3 linked regions of the Homo sapiens genome follow. The protein of the gene in region 1 purifies or fractionates together with the protein of each later gene. This does not show direct contact. Each region holds a gene or a part of one and is shown in the gene's direction. Other genes may lie near its edges. The genes, in order: PCID2, DCAF4 and UBE4B.

Evidence for each region.
Region 2: the proteins of PCID2 (region 1) and DCAF4 purify together in Homo sapiens (co-immunoprecipitation; one large-scale study listed by IntAct). This does not show direct contact.
Region 3: the proteins of PCID2 (region 1) and UBE4B fractionate together in Homo sapiens (co-fractionation; one large-scale study listed by BioGRID). This does not show direct contact.

Annotation. Positions count from the first base shown.
Region 1 is NC_000013.11:113,202,038-113,205,686, reverse strand, and holds part of PCID2 (PCI domain-containing protein 2), read left to right. Parts: intron 1-3,649.
Region 2 is NC_000014.9:72,953,844-72,957,492, forward strand, and holds part of DCAF4 (DDB1- and CUL4-associated factor 4), read left to right. Parts: intron 1-317; coding exon of another isoform or gene 318-320; coding exon 321-419; intron 420-542; coding exon 543-640; intron 641-1,679; coding exon 1,680-1,853; intron 1,854-2,542; coding exon 2,543-2,657; intron 2,658-3,649. UniProt on the Homo sapiens protein: May function as a substrate receptor for CUL4-DDB1 E3 ubiquitin-protein ligase complex.
Region 3 is NC_000001.11:10,039,441-10,043,089, forward strand, and holds part of UBE4B (ubiquitin conjugation factor E4 B), read left to right. Parts: intron 1-3,649. UniProt on the Homo sapiens protein: Ubiquitin-protein ligase that probably functions as an E3 ligase in conjunction with specific E1 and E2 ligases. May also function as an E4 ligase mediating the assembly of polyubiquitin chains on substrates ubiquitinated by another E3 ubiquitin ligase.

The DNA of each region.
Region 1 (3,649 bases):
GGAACATGTGTCAGTGTGTCGTTCTTTTTTATGGCTAATGATATTCCATTGTATGGAGTATTTTGTTTATCCATTCATCAGTTGATGGACCACTTCAGTTGTTTCCTCTTTTTGGCTGTTGTGCTGCTGCTGTGAACATTCTTGCGCAGGTTTTGTATTCTTTTTGGCATATACCTAAGAGTGGAATTGCTGAGTCATATGGTAATTCTGTGTTTAACTTGTTAAAGAAATGCCAAAGCAGCTAGCTGCATCATTTTACATTTTCACCAGCAATGTATGAGGGTTGCAATTTCTTCACTTTCTTGTCAATGCTTGTTTTTTTCCATTCTTTTTATTATGGCCATCCTGCTGGGTGCGGAGTGGTATCTTCTTGTGGCACCCCATGATCTTTCTTGTCCCAAAGATTTTCTTCATTATGTTCCTTTTGCCAAGAACACCTCTCTTTTTTACAGGTGTAGTGAACATCTTTATTTAGGGAATCAGCTTTGAGTTAGATACTTTACTCCTTAATCTTCAGTAGTTCTTCATATTGTCTTTCAAGAGTTTATGGAATTGGAAAGTTTGACTATTCAGAAGTGACTTCAGAGGTTCATGACCTGTAATGATTTTGAATTTTTAAAAGAGTTATGAGTTCCAAGAGTAGATGGTGCCTCCTGTGGACCAGACTGGAGGGCGTGAGGGGCATGCAGCAACCACAAGGAAGTCTTCCTGGGGCCAGAGCCAGGGAGCATCCCCTGGTGAGCCAGGCCTGGGGGTGCCGCTCAGAAGGTGCTCACTTGGAGTCTGGTTGTGTGGTCCCATTGAGGGCTGAAGGCTCTGCAGCATGAGCTGTTAAGAGTTGGCCAGGTGGCTGGGCTGCTAGGGGTCCTGTGTCCACTGCGGCGCCAGTCGCACCTTTAGGGCTTGCAAGTACCGTCCGTTGCCATCCCTGCTTTTCCTCTTCACATCCCCAGTCTTCTCACAGTTTAGTCATTGAGGCAGGGGCATTGATAGGACCACCCCTGGGACACATTCATGCCTGCCAAGCAAGCTGGGGCCCTCCTTGGGCTCAAGGCCCTGTGGCACTGAGCCCTCCTCTGGTCAGGTCACCCGTGGGACACTGGGTGCAGCCCAGGTAGGTGTGGCCAAGCAGAGCCCAGGATGTGGCGACATCACCCTGCATATGTGCAGGGACCACCCTGGGAGGTCACAGGCAAAGGAGGGCTACCAGTGAGTGCCCCCAGCAGGGGTCTCCGCCTCTCCTTGGAGGGCCCCGGTGTCTGTACTCCAGGGTTTGATCCCTTCGTGACCACTGTGTCCCCAGTGTGTTTAGTCATTGAAGTATGCTTCCATTCCACAGTGCTTGCTCCAAGTCTGGGACTCTCAGCTTTCAGTCACTCATAGGTTCCTTCTGCAGAGAGCTCTGGAGGCCTTGGCAACATCAGAACATCATGCTCAAGTGTGACCTGTCACCAGAGTACTGATGTTAACCAGAACACTCCTCTTCTCAGGCTCCTGGGGCTGGGCCCAGTGCAAGGCCCTGGGTGGTGCGAGAGATCGCACAGTGCGGGGCCTGGAGTGCCTGGAACCATAAGCAGGGGTGGCTGTGGGGAACTCTTAGCTTGAACCTCCTGTTTGTGTGGAACCAAAGAGAGCACGGCTTGGCCAGCAGGCTCCAGAACCGCTTTCTAGCCAGAAGCCCCTTAGTTGAGCAAGGTTGGAGTCTGTTGGGGCTCCTGTGGCTAGGCCTGCCCACATGGCACAGGGAGGGCCACTTTGGAAGGCATATCCTCTCTGGGGCTAAACTGACTAATACTGGTTTTCTTGGGGGACTTGCAGACCAAGACCTGGGTGGGATCGGTTGTTTTGCCTTCCATCCCAGGGCCAACTACTGATGGGAGGGCAAACGGGGAAGACGCAGTGTGCCTGCCTGGCCAAGGCAGTTGCCACCCTCATCCTTGAGGGCGCTGTTCCATTGCACCTGGTCAGATGGTCTCGAGGGAGCCAGAGGAGGCCCCTTTGGAGCTGGGCACCAGTGAGTTCTTGCAGGGCGTGGGCAGGGGACACCGGAAAGCCTCCTGCAGAGGATGGGCAGATACCAGTGTTGTCTTCTTGGGGCCATCTTCAGCTTCTTGATGATGATTGGCAAATGCAGTGTTGTAAATTGCAAAATACTGATCTGTAGCATGGTGATTTTAAAGAGGAAACCTAACCCTTTCCCCTAAACAGCTGAGGATCTTAGTATCTGTCTGTCTACCTTTTAGATGAAATCCCTAAACCTGTGGCCAGGGCTATGAAGAGAAACTTAGTTTCCATAATACTTGGGCCCAAATCGTCTTGCACCCATTTGTGACTTTGAAAATGTCAGGAGCTAGGCTATGATGTGACGTTGAGCAGCAGCTTGTGACCTTGCATGGACTGGGGCAGGAGGGCTGCCTCTGAATGGCTGTAGTTTTCCTATGAAGGCAGAAAACCTGCAAGTCTTCAGATGGCTTCAGCTGAAGATAAAGTTAAGTTCCTGCTTACACCTCCAACCCAAATCCCATGGGACTCTCCCTTCTCCTGCTCTGTGCCAGTGCTGCTCTTTCTCACTGACGACTGTGGTCCCGGCGACACCGCCCTACCCACTGCACTCACAAGCAGTTCAGGATTAGGGCCCTAGTGCCACCAACAACATTCTACTCAGTGATGTTGAAATTCAGGATTTTTTTTGTTTTGTTTTTGGCAGTCTTTTTGTCCTTAGAATAAGGACAGTCAAATTCCACAAACTACTGTTTTCAAAGGTTACTCATATAGGTATGTATTTTCTATTTGTTTCAATTTTAAGGTTTGTCTTTCTATTTTATTTCTTGAATGGGGTTGTAAGTAACTTATATTTAAAGGTGTGCTCAGAAACTTTCCTTCTCTCTCTCACCTCATTCCACCCCCCTCTCTAGAAAGATAATCATTTGCATTAGATTCTGCCTTCTCCATCCTGTATTTCCTTTTGGGATGTACATGTGACACACACACAGACATAAACACACATATTTTTCTTGTTTCCCTTCATTCTTATACAAGACGCAGCATTCTATACATACTCTTTTACAACTTGCTTTTTTCACTTAACTGTATCTTCCTAGAAATTATTGCATGTAAATTCCTAGAGATCTTCCTCATTTTCAAAAAATGGTTGCATAGTGTGCCTTAAAATAGATGTTTCACAGAGTATTCAGCCTGTCTCTATGGATGGATATTTAGTTTGTGTCCAATATTTTGTGATTACATGTAGCCGAGTACAAATACCTTCTGTTTCTAGTTGTAAGTTCCTGGCAGTGTGATTACTGTTTCAAAATGTAAATGCATGTGTAGTTGTATGGAATAGTCAGGGGGGAAATTCCTTATCATGGAAGTTAGTCTTCAGGAAGGTGGTGTCAGCCTCCCTGTCATACCCTGAGTTGAACAATGGGGTAGTAGGAGTTGGGCTCCAGTGTGTTGAACTGGTGGCATGTGCCTCCCTTTCTTCTGGGTATGGACACCTGGGCACAGGATTACTGGGTCAGAGAGTAGGCGTTTGCTTGCTTTAGTAGAATACCAATTTTCTTCTAAAAATTTACCCCAAGTTACCCCATCACCAATGTGTGAGCCTTCTAGTTGCTTCAGGCTCCTGGCAACACTTGGTGTCATCAGC
Region 2 (3,649 bases), on another chromosome or scaffold:
TTGCCTGAGATCACATAGCTGGTAGGTGATCGAGGATCGGAGCCACCTTACCTCCAACAGTATACTACCTCCCTGATATCAGTACTATTCGTACTGTAAACACGACTACTGGGAACGTTAACAAAGATGCATTTTCGGAATAACCACTTGTGAGCCAGGCATCCCAGCTGAGTCTCTCTTGCAACCACAAAACCCAGAATGGGGCCAAAGGTATAGACCCTCTGAGCAGCTATGGGCATATTTGGATGTTTTCCGAACCCAGTGGTCCCTGGCCTGCCTAGAAGGCAGCCACACTTTACATTCTCCTATCCCCTTAGCAGGAATAGACCGGCCTGGCATGCTCTGCAGTTTCCGGATCCCTGGTGCCTGGTCCTGTGCCTGGTCCCTGAATATCCAAGCAAATAACTGCTTCAGTACAGGTGAGCCTGGCTCCCCAGGTGCCCAGAGAAGAGGCCTTAACAGGCCTTAAAACCCCATGTAGTTGTCCCTCTCCCCAGACTACATGTGACATAATCTTACCAGCCCATCTCTGTCTCCGCCAGGCTTGTCTCGGCGGGTCCTGTTGACCAACGTGGTGACGGGACACCGGCAGTCCTTTGGGACCAACAGTGATGTCTTGGCCCAGCAGTTTGCTCTCATGGTTGGTTGGATTGGGACAGGCAGAATATAAAAGTTTGCCCCATGTAGAAATTTGGCCAGATTGAAATTGGACTCCTCTGTGTGCCATCTAGTACTCTTTGACAGGGGAGAAAGAGCATCAGAAAGGATCAGTGGGTTCCTTTGTAAGGGTGTCTGAGCCGAGTGAAAGTTGGTTGATCCAGAAAGGCTGGCCTGAGTTGCTCTACACAACCTCTCATGGAAAGGTATTGTGAGCAGTTCTTGGGTACTTGGATTTACCCAGTAGGACAAACCATTTTTAAAATGTATAAGCCAAACACCAATTCTTCACAGCTCCCAGGTTATATATTTTATATGTTTAAAAAATCAGGCCAGGTACAGTGGCTAATGAATGGCTGTAATCCCAACACTTTGGGAGGCCAAGATGGGTGGATCACAAGGTCAGGAGTTCAAAACCAGCCTAGCCAAGATGGTGAAACCCCTTCTCTACTAAAAATACGAAAGTTAGCCAGGCATAGTGCTGGGCGCCTGTAATCCCAGCTGCTCGAGAGACTGAGGAGAATTGCCTGAACCCGGGAGGCGGAGGTTGCAGTGAGCCAAGATCACACCACTGCACTCCAGCCTGGGCAACAGAGCAAGACTCTGTCTCAAAAAAAAAAAAAAATTGTGGTCATTACTATATTTCACAGACTTTTCTCTAGAAAATGCCGTCTTCCCTTAAAAGTGAATGAACCCACTAACCTGCTTTTGGTGGAGATGGAATGCTATCTCTGGGACTTCAGAGAGAAAGGCCAAACGGGACAGTGCAGGGGGGTGGGGGGCAGCTCCTAGGACCTCCGTGCTACCCATGAGGAGGACACATGGGGTCTGGTTCTTCTAGCCACTAACAAGGAATCATCCTCCCTTCCAACTCCATTGAGACCCAAACCCTGACCAGCACGTGTCTAATCACACCGTCTGACCCAGAGGCTGGAAGAGGGGTTGTATCAGGAGGACCTGCCCTGCCCAGCCTCAGAGGGATGTCATGATAGCCAGGCACTGAGCAGTCCCTCTTTCCACAGGCTCCTCTGCTGTTTAATGGCTGCCGCTCTGGGGAAATCTTTGCCATTGATCTGCGTTGTGGAAATCAAGGCAAGGGATGGAAGGCCACCCGCCTGTTTCATGATTCAGCAGTGACCTCTGTGCGGATCCTCCAAGATGAGCAATACCTGATGGCTTCAGACATGGCTGGAAAGGTAGGGGATCATGGACTTTCTCAGGCCACAGGGTCTCGTGGCCCAGTGCCCTGCCAGGTGAAAGGGTTCTGCTGAAGAGGTCCTCACACCAAGACCCCAGGCAGGGGAATTTCGCTGAAGACCAAGTGATTTGTAGGCCCTGCATGGGGACTGCTTCGTTGACCATATGAGCCTAATCTGACGTAAACAAAAGTGAAAAGGATTCTCTGGTTATGTCCTTTTTTTTTTTTTTTTTTTTTTTTTTGAGATGGAGTCTTGCTCTGTCGCCCGGGCTGGAGTGCAGTGGTACTATCTTGGCTTACTGCAACCTCTGTCTCTCAGGTTCAAGCGATTCTCCTGCCTCAGCCTCCTGAGTAGCTGGGATTACAGGTACCCGCCACTGCGCCCGGCTAATTTTTGTATTTTTAGTAGAGATGGGGTTTCACCATGTTGGTCAGGCTGGTCTCGAACTCCTGACCTCATGATCTGCCCACCTTGGCCTCCCATAGTGCTGGGATTACAGGCATGAGCCACCGTGCCCGGCCTGGTTACATGCTTTTGATGAACAACAAGGCTCAAGAATTCGAGATGGAGATCTTCATGACCTGCACAGGCCACTGGAGACCACCTTGCCTTCCTGGCTTTGCACTTGGGGACCACCATGGTACCCCCTGGCCCCTCCCTGATGGCCCCTGGTGCTTTTTCCACAGATCAAGCTGTGGGACCTGAGGACCACGAAGTGCGTAAGGCAGTACGAAGGCCACGTGAATGAGTACGCCTACCTGCCCCTGCATGTGCACGAGGAAGAAGGAATCCTGGTGGCAGGTACTTGAGGAAGGAAGGGGAAGTTCCACCCCATCAAATACTGTCTCTCAGGGGCGATCCCAGCAACTTCAGCAGCAGAGGGAAAAGTTACCCCAAAACAGAACTGAATCAAGGGGAGTGTGGACAGCTGGGTGGGGAGACTAGGAGGGAAGTAGAATTAGATTATATTAGTAATCAGGAGTGTAAATAAATGTCCACCAGGTGGACAGCCTCATCCCATGTCAGTGGGCAAACGTCACTTCAGAAACAGGCAGGTGGGGAGGTCCTGGGGAGCCTGGGTTTGGAGTTTGAGTGGATTTCATCAGGCCAGCATTATTCCACCACGCAACTATCTTATCCAAAAACTTGGGCTCCCTGTTGTCTCTACTCACATTTCCACCAGAGGATGCTGAGAAAAGAAGTTATGGTCATTGTAAAGATTCTTGGCCCCGGCCCGGCGCGGTGGCTCACGCCCGTAATCCCAACACTTTGGGAGGCCAAGGAGGGTGGATCACGAGGTCAGGAGATTGAGACCATCCTGGCCAACATGGTGAAACCCCATCTCTACTAAAATACAAAAATTAACTGGGCATGGTGGCACCTGCCTGTAATCTCTCAGCTACTCGGAAGTCAGAAGCAGGAGAATTGCTTGGACCAGGAAGTCGGAGGTTGCAGTGAGCCGATATCACGCCACTGCACTCCAGCCTGGCAACAGAGCGAGACTCCGTCTCAAAATAAATAAATAAATAAAAAAGATTTGTGGCCCCTTTACTACCATCCCTGTGGCTCCATGATCTGCAGATTAGGAGCAGCTATCTGGCCACTAAGCCCCCTGGAAGGGAGTTACCAGTTGATTACAGATGATGGTGGCTATAGCGTAATCAGACAGTGTGCAGGCTCAATGCTTTCACACTGAAATAGTAGCTGCTGACACTGCAGAATGTGTTCTCAGTCTTCAAGAATTGTCACCTCTACTGGTATTCCTATAGAAAGGGCTTATACCCCATGGAACA
Region 3 (3,649 bases), on another chromosome or scaffold:
GTTTTTTGGGACAGAATCTCTCTCTGTTGCCCAGGCTGGAGTGAAGTGGCATGATCTCGGCTCACTGCAGCCTCTGGTTCCCGGGTTCAAGTGATTCTCCTGCCTCAGCCTCCCAAGTAGCTGGGATTACAGGTGCATGCCACCATGCCCTGCTGATTTTTTTTTTTTTTTGTATTTTTAGTAAAGATGGGGTTTTACCATGTTGACTAGGCTGGTTTCAAACTCCTGACCTCAAGTGGCCCACCTGCCTCTGCCTGCCAAAGTGCTGGGATTACAGGCGTGAGCCACTGCACGTGGCTGAGTTTGAACTTTCTCTGTAAAATGCCTTTTAGGGATTTTAAGAGATTAGAAAGATGGGTGGCAAGGGAGTAAAGGGTAGTTTGGGAGAAGGTGGCTGCAGACTGCAAGACATATTAGGAGGCTGTTGTTGCTGTATAGGAGCGAGGCAGTGGAGTCCAAGGGAACTAAGGCATTGCCTGTGGGAATGGAGGGGAGCAGACAGACACCAAAAATACCAAGGACTGTGATTAACCCAGTTTTGATGATCAGTTAGCTGTGAAGGAGGGGAGGGGAGGAGAGATGGAGAAATGACACCTTGGTTTCTAGCTATGGAGAAGGATAGATAAGGGTTGAATAAGGAATTCCAGAGAAGCAGCAGATTTTGGAGAAAGCACATGTTTCTTTTTTTTTTTTTCGTCTTTTGAGACAGGGTCTCCCTCTGTCGCCCAGGCTGGAGTGCAGTGGCGCAACCTCAGCTCACTGCAACCTCTGCCCCCTGGGTTCAAGTGATTCTCCTGCCTCAGCCTTCCAAGTAGCTGCCAGCCATGCCCAGCTAATTTTTTAATTTTTAGTAGAGACGGTGTTTCACCATATTGGCCAGGCTGGTCTTGAACTCCAGACCTTGGTGATCCGCCTGCCATGGCCTCCCAAAGTGCTGGGATTACAGGTGTCAGCTACCACGCCAGGCCTCCGGCTAATTTTTGTATATTTTGTAGAGACAGGGTCTTGCCATGTTGCCCAGGCTGGTCTCAAACTCCTGGGCTCAAGTGATCTGCCCACCTCAGCCTCCCAGAGTGCTGAGATTGCAAGTTTAATTTTGGACCACCAAAAAGATGAGTCCACATGTAGACCCCCACTCTGGCCTTGGTGCTCTAACATCTCCATTTCTTTCTTCTTTTTTCTTTTTTTTTTTTTGAGATGGAGTTTCGCTCTTGTTGCCCAGGCTGGAGTGCAATGGCGCGATCTCAGCTCGCTGCAACCTCTGCCTCCCAGGTTCAAGCGATTCTCCTGCCTCAGCCTCCCGAGTAGCTGGGATTACAAGCATGTACCACCATGCCTGGCTAATTTTTTTGTATTTTTATTAGAGACGGGATTTCTCCATGTTGGCTTGGCGGGTCTCAAACTCTTGACCTTAGGTGATCTGCCTGCCTCAGCCTCCCAAAGTGCTGGGATTACCGGCGTGAGCCACCGCACCCAGCCTAACATCCCCACCTCTTTGACCATTTCTTCCCTTGTAACAGGCCTGAGGACCTGAGGTCCCTTTTTTCCTCAGAAGATAGTTGCTACCATTCACTTTATAACCAGGACTCTTTCTTAAGCCTGGGAGGACAGTGGGATGTATCCTGCCAGGCCCTTTCCTCTCCTTTTGTTCATTGTAGACAAGAGACAGAGAATGATAATAAGGATATAAACTTGCTTCACAAGGTTGGCATCCTTATCCCCTGTTTTACAGATAAGAAAATGGAGGCTAATAGAAATTAATTTATTGAAAGGCACACAACTAGTAAGTGGTAGAACCTGGACTCTAATCCAGGTTCTGACTCCAGAGTTTTCTATCGCTTTACTACCTCTAAAACAAGACTTAACCTCAGCCAACTGTAACCTTTTTGGCATTCTTTTTTTTTTTTTTTTTTGATGGAGTTTCGCTCTCGTCACTCAGGCTTGAGTGCAATGGCCTGATCTCGGCTCACTGCAACCTCTGCCTCCTGGGTTCAAGCAATTCTCCTGCCTAAGCCTCCCAAGTAGCTTTGATTACAGGCTCCCGCCAGCATGCCCAGCTAATTTTTGTATTTTTAGTAGAGATGGGGTTTCTCCAAGTTGGCCAGGCTGGTCTCGAACTTCTGACCTCAGGCGATCCCCCCGCCTCGGCCTTCCAAAGTGCTGGGATTACAAGCGTGAACGACTGTGCCCGGCCACATTTATAGCATTCTTACGGTCCCTTCTGAGATAGGAAGTGGAAGCCCCAGTGGACTTTTTGTTTGTTTGTTTGTTTTTTAAGACAGAGCCTCGCTGTGTCCCCATGCTGGAGTGCAGTGGCACGATCTCTGCTCACTGCAACCTCCGCCTCCCGAGTTCAAGTGATTCTCCTGCCTCAGCCTCCCGAGTAGCTGGGGTTACAGGCACATGCCACTACTGCCCGGCTAATTTTTGTATTTTTAGTAGAGGGGTTTCACCATGTTGGCCAGGCTGGTCTCAAACTCCTGACCTCAAATGATCCACCCACCTCAGCCTCCCAAAGTTGTGGGATTACAGGCATGATGCTGGAGTGCAGTGGTGCTATCTTGGCTCACTACAACCTCTGACTCCTGAATTCAAGCGATTCTCCTGGGTCAGCCCCTCGAGTATCTGGGATTACAGGCGCCCGCCGCCAGGCCCAGCCCTCCAGTGGACTTTCATTCCCGTTTGTTATTGCTGAGAGTGGAGCTCATCAAGTAGCCCCAAGCTCTTGTAGGGAAAGAAGGCAGAAAGACTTCTCTGTGCAAAGTGCATTTTCTCACACGGCACTTGTAGTATCTAGTGGAAATGTCTTCCTGTAAACGGTTCATTCAACAGCGCTTACAGTTGACTAGCTGCATCCCTGATAACAGACAAACGTTGCTGTATGGAGCTTCGTCCTAGTGGGAGGAGAGGGATAAAAAACAAGCATGGCCGGGCGTGGTGGCTCACGCCTGTAATCCCAGCACTTTGGGATGCTGAGGCGGGTGGATCACGAGGTCAGGAGTTCGAGACCAGCCTGACCAACATGGTGAAACCCTGTCTCTACTAAAAATACAAAAATTAGCCGGGCGTGGTGGTGCACGCCTGTAATCCTAGCAACTCAGGAGGCTGAGGCAGGAGAATAGCTTGAACCCGGGAGGCAGGGGTTACAGTGAGCTGAGATTGCACCACTGCACTCTAGCCTGGGCGACAGAGTGAGACTGTGTCTCAAAAGCAAAGAAACAAACAAACAAACATGTTCACATAAGGTGTCATTTGATGAGAAGTGCTGTGAAGAGAAATACTTAGGGATGGAGTATTGTTACAGAGTATTTCTGTGGCCTACAGGTACAGAGAACAATCAGATATGTGTAACGTGTGCACTTTGAGGAGGTGGTCTTGAAAAGAATTTCAGGGATGGCTGGGAGCTTGCTCGGGGAAGAATGTTCCCAGGTAAAGGGAACAGCAGGTTCAGAAGGCCTTGAGGTAAACTCATTCTTGAGCTGTTCCAGGAATAGCAAGGATGCCAAGCATGGTTAGAGCCTTCTGTGCAAGGGGCACAGTGGCAGGAGGTAAAGTCATTCATTCTTTTTTTTTTTTTTTAATTTTTTGAGACAGAGTTTTACTCTGTCACTCAGGCTGGACTGCAGTGGCTCAATGTCAGCTCACTGCA